2 separate regions of the Homo sapiens genome follow, and region 2 is linked to region 1. The links come from fine-mapping of genetic effects on gene expression. A gene starts in region 1. The other region holds a variant in brackets. All regions are shown on one strand. Distances are from middle to middle.

Region 1 (4,000 bases):
GGAGTAGGGACCCAGTTCATTCCATTCCCCTGCACCCAAGGTTTCATGGTCACAGGCAATGGCAGCCACGTGGGTGAGAGTGTGAATTCAAATCCTGGCTCTTCTATTCAGAGGCTGTGTGGCCTCAGGGAAGTGACTTACACTCTCTGTGCTCAGTTCCATCATTGAAAAAATGAGGCTAATAACAGGACCAGCCTGGAGGGTTGTTGGGGGTGGCAGGATTTGGCAGTATAATGCTTTGGGGTCAGGTACTCAGAGGCATCTGTTTTGTTGTTGTTTGTTTGTTTGGTTGGTTGGTTTTGTTTTGAAATAGGGTCTTGCTCTGTCACCCAGGCTGGGATGCAGTGGCTCGATTTCAGCTCACTGCAACCTCCACCTCCCAGGCTCAGGCAATCCTCCCACCTCAGCCTCCTGAGTGGCTGGAACCACAGGCATATGCCACCATGCTGGCTACTTTTTGTAGCAACTGGATTTCATCATGTTGCAGGCTGGTCCTGAACTCAAGCCACCTGCCTGGGCCTCCCAAAGTGCTGGGATTACAGGCCTGAGCCATCGTGCCAGGCCTCCAAAGGCATCTGCTAACACAGATCTCTTCTCCCCTTGGATTTGTCTTTTGTCAATCCAAGGACTGTTGTTCTGGAACAGTCTTATTCACTACTGAGCCCTCCAGTGCTTGAAACAGAGCCCAGCACATAGTAGGTGCTTAATTATTGGATGACTGCATGCCAGTTGAGTGCCTCTGAAGAATGATGCTTCAAAGACTGAGAAAAGTAAAACAAAAAGAGGAAAAAAAGATAACAGAAAACATCTGCATTATTATTATCTTTTTGAGATGGAGTTTTGTTCTTGTCTCCTAGGCTAGAGTGCAATGGCGCCATCTCAGCTCACTGCAACCTCTGCCTCTCAGGTTCGAGCGATTCTCCTGCCTCAGCCTCCCAAGTAGCTGGGACTACAGGCATGCACCACCATGCCCGGCTAATTTTTGTATTTTTAGTAGAGACAGTGTCACCATGTTGGCCGGGATGGTTTCGAACTCCTGATCTCAGGTGATCCGCCCGCCTCAAACTCCCACAGTGCTGGGATTACAGGTGTGAGCCACCGCGCCCGGCCAGTCTGCATTATTCTGTATCTGCATTTGAGCCGCACCAAAATCTTAGGCAAGCCTTCCCTGTTTGAGTCCACGTCACGCAGGCAGCCTTCCATAGTCCTTGTTCCACCCATTCCCCATCCTTGTTTCTCCCACGTGCCCTAGCTCGTGGGGGCCCCAGACTCTGAGATCCCGGAGGTGTCTTGTTTGTGCCTGCTGTATAGCACAGGGCCCGGCACAGAGCGACTCGATGGGTATTTGGGGAATGAGTTAATGCTGGAGGAGCTAATTCCGGTGTCTTGGTGCGGAGATGAGCAGTGCGGACAGGCCCCCTCCTGCCCTTGGGCCCCAGCACCTTACCGCGCAGTGCCTGCATACCCGTCCACATTTTGTGACTGAGGCGGGAGCACGGGGCAGTCCCTTAGCTCTTAAGGAACGTGGATTTACCTGTTTCAAAGGTGATTTCGTCTGGCTCTAAATTGATTTCCGTATGTACCTGCACAGGTTAAAAATGCTAAATGCCTCCGGGCAAAAGAGATATGAACATGCTGCACTGCTCCTAGCTACGGGACTTGGGGCACGCTCTTCTCCAAGCCTCAGCTACTGGATCTGTGAAATGAGGTGATTTCCACCTCCCTGGATTCCTGGGAACGCGTCCTAGGGTCGTTGAAGGTAAAGTGCGGAGCCTGGATCCCCGCGCTAGCGGCCCCATCCGGAAACAAGTCTCCCTTTCTTCGTCTGCAAATTGGGAAGAGGGGGCCTAAGTTTTCTGAGCACGTGTAGAGGGTGGGAGTCACCTCAGTAACTGTGTACTCTGCACCGCGCCACAGTTCACAGCGCCCAGCCCTTGCGGATTTCATTTGCTAAAATCCTGGGAGGTCGCCTCCTTATTCCTATTTTCCAGTTGAGCTGCAGAGAGCTGGGGTTTGGTAAATTTGCAAGCCCCTTGTGGGAAGCGCTTGGCACCGCGCCAGGCGCATAGTAAGCGCTCAATGAAAACTATGCTTGTGTGGCCAGTGGCGAGGGAGCTGAGCGTCTCCTTGTCCCTAGCCGGCCCTGGAGGCCAGCGGCCCCGCCTTCCTCGCCCACCCGGCGCCCGCGCCTCAGCTGCCCCCCGCCTCCTTCAGCCCGCTGAGCCTGCGGGGCGGGGCCGGGGGCGGGGCCGGTGATGCTCGGTCCTACCAGCGCCGCCAGCGATCTGGGGGCGTGGCCTCCGGGCTCCGGGGAGCCTACAAGAGGCGGTACGCTGAGCCCCGGCACCCACTCGCATCCCAGGGCGTCTCCGGCTGCTCCTATTGAGCTGTCTGCTCGCTGTGCCCGCTGTGCCTGCTGTGCCCGCGCTGTCGCCGCTGCTACCGCGTCTGCTGGACGCGGGAGACGCCAGCGAGCTGGTGATTGGAGCCCTGCGGAGGTAAGTGTGATTTCCATGCTTCTCCCTTTTGCAAACTGTTACCCCCCCGAGAAGCTGGAATAACTAGGACAGATGCCACCTCGCAGGGCTGACTGTGTGCTGGCACCACACCGAGTGCTCTGCTTGCATAGCGGAACACAGCTTTGCGACATGCCCTTTTGCAGATGGAGAAACTGAGGCTCAGCGAGGACAACTCATTTGTCCAGGACCTCGCAGCCAGGACTCCAAGGACCCAGGATTCAACGCCGATCTGAGCGCAGAATCCTGCTCCTTAGAGGCTGTTTACTCTCTTGCCTTCCTCGTGCAGTTCACTAGCATTTGTTGCATTCCTGTGTTCGTAGTGGGTGTCAATAACTGGAAAGCTGATGGCATGGATATGGCAGGCATTAGAATGTGTCCTACTCATGTCTGGAGGACCAGGGTGATCTAGTGGCATGTGCATTCAGCTGCAGTTTAGAGGGCCACGCCCCTCTGTGATTTCATTTGCAAGGTAGCCTTCTTCCCACATTTCAGATGAAGATGCTGAGGGTCAGAGAGGTGAAGTAAGTTGTCCGGGCAGAGCCAGGGCTGGAACCCAGCTCTGTCTGTCTCCAGAGCTTCAAATGGATGTGTAGAGACTTGGGGCCATGTCAGGGTTCTGCAGTCTGGGGGAACACGTTTCTGGGTTTCTTTAGCCAGAGCGGGCACCTGCATAACTCCTGCGTGGGGAGAGTTACCCTGGAAGCGGAGGGCTCACTCTGGAGTGTGGGGGAGATCGGTCGTCCCACGTGGACAGAGCCAGGGCTAGTCCCTCATGTGCTGCAGACCCAGAGCCTCCCTTGCTAAGGCTGGGCTGGTGGACAAGCCAGGGAGGACTTCGCTGATGCCTGCTCATCGCAGTCCAACTTGAATTGGGCGTCTCTCAGCCAAAATGTGAGTTGCTGCCCTGGCTGAGAGAAGCATCCCGTGCAAATGCCTAGCTTGCCTTGCAACCGAGAGTGGGGTTGTGAGTTTCCCCTTTGGGCCTTTGGACCTCTTGCCCTGGTAGAATGGGGTGAGCCTGCTTTCCCCATCCAGGGTCTGATGTCTGACAGTGAGGAGAGCCTGCAGAACAGGACCGGGGCGTGGTCCTTTCCAGTAGACTGAGGCCATGAGTTGTGACTGTCGGCTGTCCCAGGGCTCCTTGGGTTGTATGCACCTGATTTTCTGCTTCTGCCCCTGATCTGGCTGTTCCCACTCAGGAGAAGGGGTGGGTGTGTGACTGTGTTGCCTGTGCGGCAGGCACGCGGTCTGTGCCACGCAGTTTACCTGTATTGTCATCGCTGCAACACCCCGGGGAGTAGGCCTCTTGATGCCCACTTCACAGCTGAGGAAACTGAGGCTCAGCAAGGTGAAGTGCTTGCCTAAGATCCCCCAGCTGGTATGGAATGCTGTCACCCCCAGGTGGGTCCTATCTGCACTCTTGACCCTGCTTTCTTTAAGACACTTCCCTGCCCACTGCCAACTCCACCCATGAACCTGAC
Region 2 (4,000 bases), 95 kb after region 1:
CGATTCTCCCACCTCAGCCTCCTGAGTAGCTGGGATTACAGGCATGTGCTACCAAGCCCAGCTAATTTTTGTATTTTTAGTAGAGCCGGATTTTCACCATATCGGTTAGGCTGGTCTTGAACTCCCGACCTCAGGTGATTGGCCCACCTCAGCCTCCTAAAGTGCTGGGATTACAAGCGTGAGCCACTGGCCCCAGCCTATCTTTGCCTTTTATGATGTTGACTTTTTTAGTTAAAGATAGCTGGCCAATATTTCGAAGAATGTCCCTGAACCTGAGTTTGTCTGGTGTTGCTTCACCATGAGGCTCAGGGTATACACTTTTGGCAGATACCGCAGGGGAGACACTGTGTCCTTCTCCGTGGCTCGTATCAGAAGCCGCATCTGTTTGTCCTGTTCCTGCAGCTGCTGACTCTGATGGCTTGGCTGAGGCATCTGGCAGATCTGTCCACTGCGAAGTTCCTATTTATTTAGAGACAGGGTCTGGCTCTGTTGCCTGGGCTGGAGTGCTGTGACATGAACATGGCTCAATGCAGCCTCCTCCTCCCCTGGCTCAGGTGATCCTGCCACCTCAGCCTCCTAAGTAGCTGGGACCACAGGTGTGTGCCGTCATGCCCGGGTAATTTTTTGTATTTTTGGTAGAGACAGGGTTTTGCCATGTTGTCCAGTCTGGTCTTAAACTCCTGGACTCAAGCATTCCACCTGCCTCAGCCTCCCAGAGTGCTGGGATTACAGACGTGGGCCACTGTGCCTGGCCTCTGTTTTTTTTTAAACTAAGTAATTATCTTCTGGAGAGATATATTGAGACTATGTAAATAGCCTATTCCCCATAAAAACTTCACCCAGTAGTTTTTGCCTCTATTGATGATTCTTTCTTGAGACAAGTATTTTATGATGGTTGCCAAAGGTGAACTTTCTAACTCCACTGTGCTTTCCGCATTTATTAGTTGGCGTTGTACTGTAAGGAAGAGATTTCCCTTTTCCTCCATTTATTTATTTATTTGCATACACACATGCATATGTGTGTGTATAATGATATATGTGTATGTTATATAGTTGATATATATTTATATGTGTGTCATGCAGATATACGATCTCTATCTAGATACATATTATGTATATATGATATATAGATGTAGATATGATATGATTATATCACTGATCTATAATATAGACACACATATACATTGGCATGGACTCAGGAATTCTTATTTTATGCAGTGGATTAAAATGCTTTCCTATCAGTTTTATTTGGATGCTCAAACTGTCCCAGATTTGGAGAGGGGAGCTCCGTCCAGCTGGCTCTGTGTCCTTCCAGCGCGGCCCATCAATTCGAGGACTTCCTGACTTTCTGGCACAACAAGATGTTCCTGGCTCATCTTGTACTTCCCCTGCCCAGCCCTGGAATCAGCCATTTCTCCAAGGAGCCCTGGTTCCTTCTGGTGGAGAATGGTGTCTAAATAGGTGGAAAAAAAAAACCCCACTCTGGCAGAGAAAACAGGTTGAGGGAAGAGATGCTTGTATCT[C/T]GAAAACAACAGATTTGGGGAGAGTTTGGCTCCTCACCCCATCCAGACCTGATGATGGAGAGCAAAAGCCTAAACCTAGATGCTGGCAATGGTCTGAGGGGCTCCCCAGTCCTACGAGACAGGGCCCCCTCCCCTTGTAGAAACTTGGAGTATCTGACACTCGCTTTCCCAGACTCCCCTGCAGCTTGGGCACCACGTGCAAGGAGTGGGGTCCAGAAAGGTCTCAGGGGAGCGGTGGGGGCTTCAGGGGCAGCATGTGGGAATGCCAAATTTAGGCAAAATAAAATAATAACAATAAAATACGGTATGGGACACGCTTAGCCCCGAAACGTACTTATTGCTTATCTGCAGTTCCCGTTGAACTGGCCTGCTGTTGGCCAGGTGCAGTGGCTCATGCTGTAATCCCAGCACTTTGGGAGGCCGAGGCGGGCGGATCATGAAGTCAGGAGATTGAGACCATCCTGGCTAACACAGTGAAACCCCGTCTCTACTAAAAATGCAGAAAAATTATCCGGGTGTGGTGGCGGGCGCCTGTAGTTCCAGCTACTCCGGAGGCTGAGGCAGGACAATGGCATGAACCCGGGAGGCAGAGCTTGCAGTGAGCCAAGATCACGCCACTGCACTCCAGCCTGGGCAACAGAGCAAGACTCCGTCTCAAAAAAATATATAAAATAAAATAAAAAATAAAAATGAACTGGCCTGCTGTTCATATGGCACCCCCAGTGTGGGTCTAACAGGAGAGCCTGGGCTCCCACCCCAGGGGGCTGCGTGGAGCCACAGCACTGCCACCAAGCAGGCGGGTCCCCTCATACAGCTCCGTGGCAGGAACTGGGAGCCACTCCTGGCTGCAGAGCTTCCCTGCTTGGTCCTCCAGCCCTCCCTGAGATTCTGTGGAATCTTCAAGGTCCTTTTAACAAATCCCTTTTCTGCTTAAATGAACTTGGGGTTCTGGAAAGAGTCACCTTCTCCCATCTCTCACAGAGCCAGATCCAGCTGGGAAAAAAGGGAGAAAGTGCCAGGACAGTCCTGAAAAACCCAAGCGTAGAAGGGCCTATTCCACATTTCCACTCAGAATTTGCAGTATTCCCCACCCTGCAAGCTGAACACTCTCAGGAGAGGGGCCTGGAAGAGAGTCCAGGGCACAGCAAGCCTGGAGCCGCCCAGTGAGGCAGCAATGCCCTGGTTTGGTGTGGGAGGGCAGGCAGAGGCTCCCATGCCCCCAAAAAGAGACAGCCAGGAGATCCTGAAGGGGATCTCCCCACAGGGAAAGGGCATGGATGGGAGACCTGGCCCTCTCAACAGATGCCGCCAGAGAACATGGCAATGACACCTTGTAGCTGGTGCTATCCTGAACAAATGGCACACATAATCTGATAGCTCCCTGCAGACCAGGGATGCTATATGCACCCTGATCCAATTATGCCTTGAGAGGCTGAGGCAGGTGAGTCGCTTGAACCTGGGAGGCGGAGGTTGCAATGAGCCGAGATCACACCACTGCACTCCAGCCTGGGTGACAGAGTGAGACTCCATCTCAGAAAAAAAAAAAAAAGAGGAGAGGATAGGAGAAAGGGTTAATGAACCATTCCAGGGAGAGTGATGTGGACAAGAAGGATATCCCGGCCTGTCCGGGTCTGGGTGGTCCGTCAGCGCCTTCCAAGGAAGAGTCTTTGATGTGGGCAGAGCCTTCGGCGGCAGATGCCAGGCACTTACCACAGTGACAGCAAGACAGTGTCTGTTAAGACGGCAGATTTGAGCTGAGGGAGTCCTGCTCTCTTTATGGCCACAGAATCTTCTGGTGGGGACTGAGAGAGGAAGAGAGTGTGCCCGGGAGTTCTTATCCGGATAGGTGCAGTCTTTGTGGATTAGGCAAAACATCTGGTCCCTGTTATCATGATGCCTTTTAAAATGTAGGATGGAGTCTTTTTCCAGGATGGAGTTACTTATGTCCAGGATGCTGTATACAGCGCCTATATCCAGTGCCACTTTGGTGAATGAATGAGCAAATGAATGAACACACAGCTGGTGGCACCAACCCTGGAGGAGCGAGTGTGGACACTGGTCTCGTTTTCTGATTTCAGCAGCTCCAGGCTGCAGGTCAGGGTGTGTGTAGCTGTAAACCGCTGCTCCATGGAGGATGAGAGGCTGCAAAGTGTGATTTCCTGGGTAGGAAAGACAGGTGCCTCTGCTTCCACCTGCTCAGCCCTGGGGAGAAGAGTTTGCTTCTATGACTCCCCTTTTCTGACTTTTTGCCTGGGCCTTTGGATGTTTTCCTGTTAAATGAAGGGCTAAAAGGAGGCAGAAAGTAAATGCGGCTGATTTCTCCCCAGGGAGTTGACAAAGAGCATGGGGAACCAGGAGCCTTGTTGAGAGTTTCAACCTCCTCCCTCCTCGCCGATCCCCTTGCCTGGCGGGCTGGGCTCAGGAAACTGATGGAGAAAAGGGGCTCTGTGTCTCCTCCATGTGTGCGTGTGTGCGTG

What was found. PIP is the estimated chance that this variant, and not a neighbour inherited with it, causes the effect.
Region 2: its variant is the best candidate, but not a certain one, in a credible set for the expression of CRISPLD2 in whole blood (TOPMed, PIP 0.58).

Annotation. Positions count from the first base shown.
Region 1 is chr16:84,817,636-84,821,635 of GRCh38, forward strand. CRISPLD2 (cysteine rich secretory protein LCCL domain containing 2) reads left to right here and starts at 2,350. Exons shown (of 15, transcript NM_031476.4): 1 at 2,350-2,498. RefSeq lists a silencer at 2,123-2,312.
Region 2 is chr16:84,913,122-84,917,121 of GRCh38, forward strand. No RefSeq gene overlaps it. Among named protein-coding and RNA genes, the nearest start is that of LINC02176, 13 kb to the right of the region's middle. The variant C/T (reference allele first, on the strand shown) is at 1,524.